2 linked regions of the Homo sapiens genome follow. The protein of the gene in region 1 interacts with the protein of each later gene in a biochemical or structural test. Each region holds a gene or a part of one and is shown in the gene's direction. Other genes may lie near its edges. The genes, in order: DOT1L and STAT1.

Region 1 (3,811 bases):
GGCGAGCCAGTCAATAGCAGCAAGTGGAAGTCCACCTTCTCGCCCATCTCCGACATCGGCCTGGCCAAGTCGGCGGACAGCCCGCTGCAGGCCAGCTCCGCCCTCAGCCAGAACTCCCTGTTCACGTTCCGGCCCGCCCTGGAGGAGCCCTCTGCCGATGCCAAGCTGGCCGCTCACCCCAGGAAAGGCTTTCCCGGCTCCCTGTCGGGGGCTGACGGACTCAGCCCGGGCACCAACCCTGCCAACGGCTGCACCTTCGGCGGGGGCCTGGCCGCGGACCTGAGTTTACACAGCTTCAGTGATGGTGCTTCTCTTCCCCACAAGGGCCCCGAGGCGGCCGGCCTGAGCTCCCCGCTGAGCTTCCCCTCGCAGCGCGGCAAGGAGGGCTCGGACGCCAACCCTTTCCTGAGCAAGAGGCAGCTGGACGGCCTGGCTGGGCTGAAGGGCGAGGGCAGCCGCGGCAAGGAGGCAGGGGAGGGCGGCCTACCGCTGTGCGGGCCCACGGACAAGACCCCACTGCTGAGCGGCAAGGCCGCCAAGGCCCGGGACCGCGAGGTCGACCTCAAGAATGGCCACAACCTCTTCATCTCTGCGGCGGCCGTGCCTCCCGGAAGCCTCCTCAGCGGCCCCGGCCTGGCCCCGGCGGCGTCCTCCGCAGGCGGCGCGGCGTCCTCCGCCCAGACGCACCGGTCCTTCCTGGGCCCCTTCCCGCCGGGACCGCAGTTCGCGCTCGGCCCCATGTCCCTGCAGGCCAACCTCGGCTCCGTGGCCGGCTCCTCCGTGCTGCAGTCGCTGTTCAGCTCTGTGCCGGCCGCCGCAGGCCTGGTGCACGTGTCGTCCGCTGCCACCAGACTGACCAACTCGCACGCCATGGGCAGCTTTTCCGGGGTGGCAGGCGGCACAGTTGGAGGTAGGCAGGGCGGCCGTCCGTCCGCCCCCCGCCCCGGCCCCCGCCGGAGGCCCCTTCCTTTGCAGGTTCCCTTCCGCACTCTCTTGCAGCAGGAGCTGAGCTGCAGGTCCCCTGGTGCCGGCCGGCCCCCGCCATCCGTGCACGGTGGCGAACTCCAGTCCTGTGGGGAGAGGGCTCACGCTGAGTCCGTGTGTCTTGGGTTCTCTGGTTGTAACCGCGTCCCTCTTGTTTTCAGAAGGCCACCGTGCGCAGGGCCACCAGAGCATTACTTTCTCCCGTGGAGGTCACCTGCTAGGTGTGGCCGCCCGGGCTCTGGCAAGGCTCTGGGAGCTGGTGTTGGGTAAGAGCGAGTCCCCGCAGTGCCTGCCCAGACAGGGCGGAGAGGAGCCGCCGGGGGGAGCGGCCTGGCCCTGGGGCTGCTGCGGGGCGGGGGGCCGGAGGGCGGAGGGCGGGCCACCACGAGCCTGGCCGAGCCGCTGCTTGTGCTTGGTGCCCGCACACGCCTGGCGGCGCCGTTTCGCTTCCCTTTTTGTGAGCCTGCGGCTGCTGCTCTGCGCTTGCCTGGATGCTGCCGCTTGTTGAAGCTGCGTTTTTCTCTCCTATTTGCAGGTGTCTTTAACCACGCGGTGCCCTCCGCCTCTGCTCATCCGTTTGGAGCCCGTGTCGGCCGCGGGGCTGCATGTGGCAGCGCCACACTGGGCCCGAGCCCGCTGCAGGCGGCGGCCAGCGCCTCGGCCTCTTCCTTTCAGGCCCCGGCCTCGGTTGAGACCCGGCCGCCCCCTCCGCCTCCGCCTCCGCCTCCCCCGCTGCCCCCGCCTGCGCACCTGGGCCGGTCCCCCGCGGGGCCGCCCGTCCTCCACGCCCCCCCTCCACCTAACGCCGCCTTGCCTCCTCCCCCAACGCTGCTGGCCTCTAACCCTGAGCCCGCGCTTCTGCAGAGCCTCGCGTCCCTCCCGCCTAACCAAGCTTTCTTGCCCCCCACCTCTGCTGCCTCTCTGCCGCCTGCTAACGCCTCTTTGTCTATCAAGCTCACCTCCCTCCCGCACAAGGGCGCCCGCCCCTCCTTCACGGTGCACCACCAGCCCCTGCCCCGGCTGGCCCTGGCCCAGGCCGCGCCCGGGATCCCACAGGCCAGCGCCACGGGGCCGTCCGCGGTGTGGGTGTCCCTCGGCATGCCGCCTCCCTATGCCGCGCACCTTTCGGGGGTTAAGCCGCGATAAAGACCTTGCTTAGCTAGCAGTGCGTATTGTGTAAGGTAAGGCCAGAGCCCTGCGCGGTGGCTCACTCCAGACACTGAACTGTCCTTCCTTTGGCAGAGAAGACGGCCACAGGGCTCGGCAGAAGTTCCGGGGGTCCTGAGGAGGGAAGAGGGAGAGAGCCAGGGAGACCAGGGAGATGGTCGCGAGAGGAGGGACTACAGGACGGGCACCAGCCATGGAGTGGCCTGAGTGTGTTGGGTTCCAGCTGCCCGCAGCTGGGTTCCTGCGGTGACGCCGCAGGACTGAGGCCAGCCCTGGGGGCAGCTGTGCCAGCCCCTGTGGGCGAGGCTCACGGGGTGCCAGGCCAGGGGGCTGGGAGCTCTAGCTCCTAGAGCAGTCTCCAGGGCTCCATCCGCACCAGGCCCAGGTCACTCATGACGGGTGGCGTGGCTTGGTGCTGTTCCCCAGGCGCCCAGCATGTAGCAGGCACGGTGCCGGCTGCAGAGGTCCTGGAGAGCCAGGGTGGCTGGCTGGATGCCTCTGGTCGGGGCTGTCTGGCCAGTAGCCTCGGATGCCCTCATAGGGAGCCAGTGAAGCCCCAAGTGCCCTGCCTGCCTGGGGGCTGATGGGTTCCCGGCGGGGTCGAGAGGCAAGCTCTGTGCCCTGCGTGTTGAGGCCCCCTTGCTGGACACGGCTGATGGCCACACTGCCCTGTGGTCATGGCCCACAGCCGAGGGGCTTTCAGCTGCTCAGATGTCAGCACCAAGCTGGGCAGGTTAGTGTAGACGGTGCCCACCTTTGAGACCAGAAGGAAGTTGGAAGCAGGAGTGATTTTGATGATGTGAGGCCTTCAGGGAATGTCCTGTTCACTCCTCCCCCAAGAGGCTGTGGAGACTGTGGCCGCTGACCCCTGAGGGCAGTTGGCCACCCGTGCCCTCCAGGGACATGGCGTGCCTGGCGGCGTAGTGCAAAGGTGCCCTCTGCTTGCCCCTGGCCTTCTGCCTCAGGGGCCCCTGGGACACAGGCCTTCCTGGGCGAGTCCAAAGCCCACCGGGCAAGGAGAGGAGGACTGGGAGCCAGGAGCCAAGGCGGAGGCTGTGGCCAGGGCTGGTCAGCCTGGCGGGTCAATGCGGGCACCTGCGGGCTGGACAAGCTATGCTGGGTCTCTTAGGAGATGAGCTGCAGGTAGGGTGGCTTTAGCTGGACTCGGCTGTGTGTCTCCTTTGGAGGAAGGCTGGAGCTTGGCCGGCGTGTCCAGGTGTCAGGCTCCCTGGTCTGTCACGGGGCACGCCCGTCGTCTGTTGTGGTTAGAGGAGCTGGCACTATGCCTGTCATGGTGCTGGCCCCAGGTGGCGTGTGTGCTCGTGGGAGGCCTCGGTCCCCAGCCTGGGTGAGTGTTGGGCTCCCCCAGGCGCGATGGTAACCTCAGGCCGCTCTTCCCGCTGTGCCCTTCTGCAGGTAACTAGGATTTCTACCTCAACCGCGAGACCTATGCAAGGACGGTGTGGACCAACTCGCGCCCGCGGCATGGTGCCCGCCGGCCTGCCGGGCTCCCACCCCTGGACGGCAGAGGCAAGGACGGACGGGAGCTCCACTGTGAATCGGCGGCACGCGCCGCAGGAGGCTGGGACTGGTCCAGTTTGTACTGTCGATAGTTTTAGATAAAGTATTTATCATTTTTTAAAAAGTATAAACAATTCTG
Region 2 (3,811 bases), on another chromosome or scaffold:
CCTTATTAGTTACCAAGCAGGGAGGGAGACAGCCACAGATTTTTCCACTCAGGTAAAATAAAACTGAACTGAAAAATCAAATTGCTTCAGCAGGAGTGCCAAGGGGCTGGGCTTGGGTCCGTTTCTACTGGTATATATGAGGATAACTAGCTTTATAGGCCAGACATTTCCTCACACTCCTTTGGAAGGACATTTGTGGAGTAGGCGTGACCTCATGCCTGCATACATGTGCTCGGCTACAAGTATGCATACACACTCTTCCATGCCCTACTTGAAAATCCAGACTCCTTCCCCAGAGGTCTGGCAGGACAAGATTCACTTGTGTCTGCTCTGCATATTGCCACCTGTGTGCTGATATAAATCCTAAGTTACATGATGGTCATGGGAGACTCTCCGTTTTCCTAATGAATTTTAGGACTTGCTTATATCAAGTTTTTGTTGTGATTTTGAATCTTTAGGATCACTATGTAAAAATGGACTTAACAGTTATCCAAAAAGCTAAGTGTTACTTTATCCTTTTAAATTACATTTAATGATGTTTTAATCTTTAAAAATCATTACTTCTTTATGCCAGATTTATTGTTTGTAGTAGGCAAAGAAGAAAATATATCTTTTTAAATGTGTATAAGAAAAATAATGAATTTTACCATATGAATCATAAATATAAAACAGAAGTTTGAAAATATTTGAGTTAAATTACAAATGTACTGTGATTTGTAGGAGAGCAATTTTGGGAGAGTCTTGTGATTTGTCTTAAAGCAAGTCTAATTAAAATAATGTTTTTCATGTATTTATTTGATAAAATCACAAACTCATTTTAAAGGCATATTTATTGGATACCTACTATGTGGTTGACATTGTTCTAGGGATACACCAGTGCACAGAATCCTCCACCAACATCCATCCCTTCAAGTGGTGAAAACAGACAATAATGAAAATAAAATATGTGGTAGGTCAGATGGTGGTGTAAGTACTATGAAGAAAAATAAACCAGGGAAAAGAGAGAGCATGTTTCCAGGGTGGGAGGTGGTTGCAGTTTAAATAAAAGAGGCCAGAGAAGGCTGCCCTGATATGTTGACAATAAGCAAAGACATGAAGATGTGTTTCGTGGAGGAGAAAAAAAGTTCATCCCCAAACTCAATTAAAAACAGGCTTTAGACTATAAATGCCATTTAAATAAAATATTCCTGGGACAAACTATGTTTTGGATTAAGCAAGATATTTAAGAGTACAACCTGATGCTAGGAAGGCTTTCTTTGGAGCTATGGTTTCCATATACATAGAAAGAATGTATATTCTTTTTCCCTATAGGATGTCTCAGTGGTACGAACTTCAGCAGCTTGACTCAAAATTCCTGGAGCAGGTTCACCAGCTTTATGATGACAGTTTTCCCATGGAAATCAGACAGTACCTGGCACAGTGGTTAGAAAAGCAAGACTGGTAAGGAAAATTCACTAGACAGAAGAAGAAGTTTACACCTTAAAAGTACTGGTTGATTAAGTGACTTGGGGCCATGTTTACTGGAAGATGAATTCCATCAATGGCCACTGGAATTATTTGTTGTAGAAAAGTTTGTTGATTTAAAAAATGACTCAACAAAGTTGAGCCAAAAAGTGTCTCAACAAAGTTAAGTATATTAGTCATTAAGCACTTTTATACAGTTTTGCCAAATTTAATTTATGATAGATATTCCTAAATGCTTTGGACAAGTTACGGAATACTGACACCGATTATTTTCCAACTTAGGATCCAGACTATAGAAAGAAGTAATTTAAAAGAAATAAAGCCAAATTAATGGTTAAACATTGATTAGAAATATGAAGAAGGTAGTAAAATTAAGGGGATTTTTTTTAACTGATAGGTGTTCTACTTTAAAATTTATTATTTGCTAATTTAAAAACGTCCTGAAAGTATTTGACATAGAAAGTGAAGGGTCCCCTGTTGACTTTTCCCCCTTCAGAGATAGTCACCATGAACACTGTCATGCACAATCTCTTAGAGTTTAGAATTTTTTGTGCTAATTGCACATAAGAGAAATACCACATAAACTGCTGCTAAAAGCAATGTCAGTTTCAAAAGAAGAAAATAAACCTAAGAAAATACTTAAATTATTTTTAATAATTTCAATAAGGAAACCAACATTTGTTTTGTCTGTTTTACATAGACATTTAGTTCTAGAATGAAATGTGTAAATGTTAAATCTCCTAGGGAGCACGCTGCCAATGATGTTTCATTTGCCACCATCCGTTTTCATGACCTCCTGTCACAGCTGGATGATCAATATAGTCGCTTTTCTTTGGAGAATAACTTCTTGCTACAGCATAACATAAGGAAAAGCAAGCGTAATCTTCAGGTATGACCTGGTTTTTGTATTTTAGTTGAAATGTTCTCATGTTTATGGAAGGCAGTTTTCTTCATTCAGCAAATACAATTGAGCACACACTTATTGGTATTTAGAGAAGTAATAGAGACTAACTCCATTTATGTTTTCTACAGCATCAGTAAATATAGCATAAGTAAAATAAGATACCAATTTATTTTATAAACACAGAAGGAATTTTTAGGGTTAAATGTATCACCTCTTAGGTATCAGTAATCCTGAGAAAAATGTGATGCTATAATTTTGTTTTACTAAAAATTGTCAATATTTAAACCAAAGAAAAGGGGCTACATTTTAAGAGCAATGATCTATAGTAATACATTAAAGCTCCAGGGAACATTAGTGGTTAGGTTCAGGTCCTTGCTATGCAAATGAGGAATAAAACAGGAAAGGTTTGACTTTCACCTAAGGAAGTCAGGTGACTTCAGGAACTAGACTCCACCTTGCCTTGCTTCTGGTGGAGTTGGCCTCTCCTGGAAGAGAAAGTCAAAGAAAGATCCAGACATGAGAGAACATGCTATAGAGTTTTAGGGGTTCTTCAGATGTACTCCCAGCATGCCCTTGGGGTGGCTATCATATTTATGTTGTGTAATAACAGAACTTTTCTGTTTTAATGGAGGTGAAAGCTATCATTTTCTTCTTTCATACAATACAACTGAACTTTTCAGCTTAGGTAATTGGAAGTTGTTTTTTTTCCTTTGTGAATGTATTTATGATTTTATTTACGAGTGGGGAAATCAAATTAACTTTACAGAAATTTGTTCTCATACAGACCTTGCATGAATGTACCTGTATAAAGAGCCATTATTGCTATTGGTAGTGTTTTGCAAACTAGCTTTGACAATGGCAACAGAAAACCCTAGATGAATATCTTTGGTCTAGTTCAAAGCTTAGACCAACAGATGCATTCATTGAGGAATGTCATGTATAGTTTTTATATCATTTGCATTGTCTCGGGATCCTAACCAAAGATAATTGGCCTTAAGAAATATGGAAAGATATTAAAGTAAAAATATTATGTGAACCATATGTGAAAATACTTGTTTTTAAATCAAAAAGTACGTTAGGTACCTGCACTTAGAAAGTTAAAGCAATTTTTGTCATAATTCGTGAAAGAAATATTTTGATTTTAACAAACATAGCTTATATAGAATTTAATAGATGAGAGATGAGGTTTCCCGGAGAATATAAACAAATTCATATCAACTTACAATACACAATAAAGTAAACATTCTGCATTTTAATTTATTTTTGTTCTAACCACTCAAATCTAGGATAATTTTCAGGAAGACCCAATCCAGATGTCTATGATCATTTACAGCTGTCTGAAGGAAGAAAGGAAAATTCTGGAAAACGCCCAGAGATTTAATCAGGTACTTTTTTCTCATTGAACACATAAACTGTAATAAAATAAAAATGTATTCATTCATC

The links.
Region 2: the proteins of DOT1L (region 1) and STAT1 form a complex in vitro, tested with the Homo sapiens proteins (one study listed by BioGRID).

What each region holds. Positions count from the first base shown.
Region 1 is NC_000019.10:2,226,218-2,230,028, forward strand, and holds part of DOT1L (histone-lysine N-methyltransferase, H3 lysine-79 specific), read left to right. Parts: coding exon 1-910; intron 911-1,519; coding exon of another isoform or gene 1,520-2,130; exon of another isoform or gene 2,131-3,567; coding exon 3,568-3,575; 3' UTR 3,576-3,811. UniProt on the Homo sapiens protein: Histone methyltransferase. Methylates 'Lys-79' of histone H3. Nucleosomes are preferred as substrate compared to free histones. Binds to DNA.
Region 2 is NC_000002.12:191,007,505-191,011,315, reverse strand, and holds part of STAT1 (signal transducer and activator of transcription 1-alpha/beta), read left to right. Parts: intron 1-866; exon of another isoform or gene 867-944; coding exon of another isoform or gene 945-949; intron 950-1,311; coding exon of another isoform or gene 1,312-1,312; coding exon 1,313-1,440; intron 1,441-2,172; coding exon of another isoform or gene 2,173-2,208; coding exon 2,209-2,353; intron 2,354-3,654; coding exon 3,655-3,753; intron 3,754-3,811. UniProt on the Homo sapiens protein: Signal transducer and transcription activator that mediates cellular responses to interferons (IFNs), cytokine KITLG/SCF and other cytokines and other growth factors.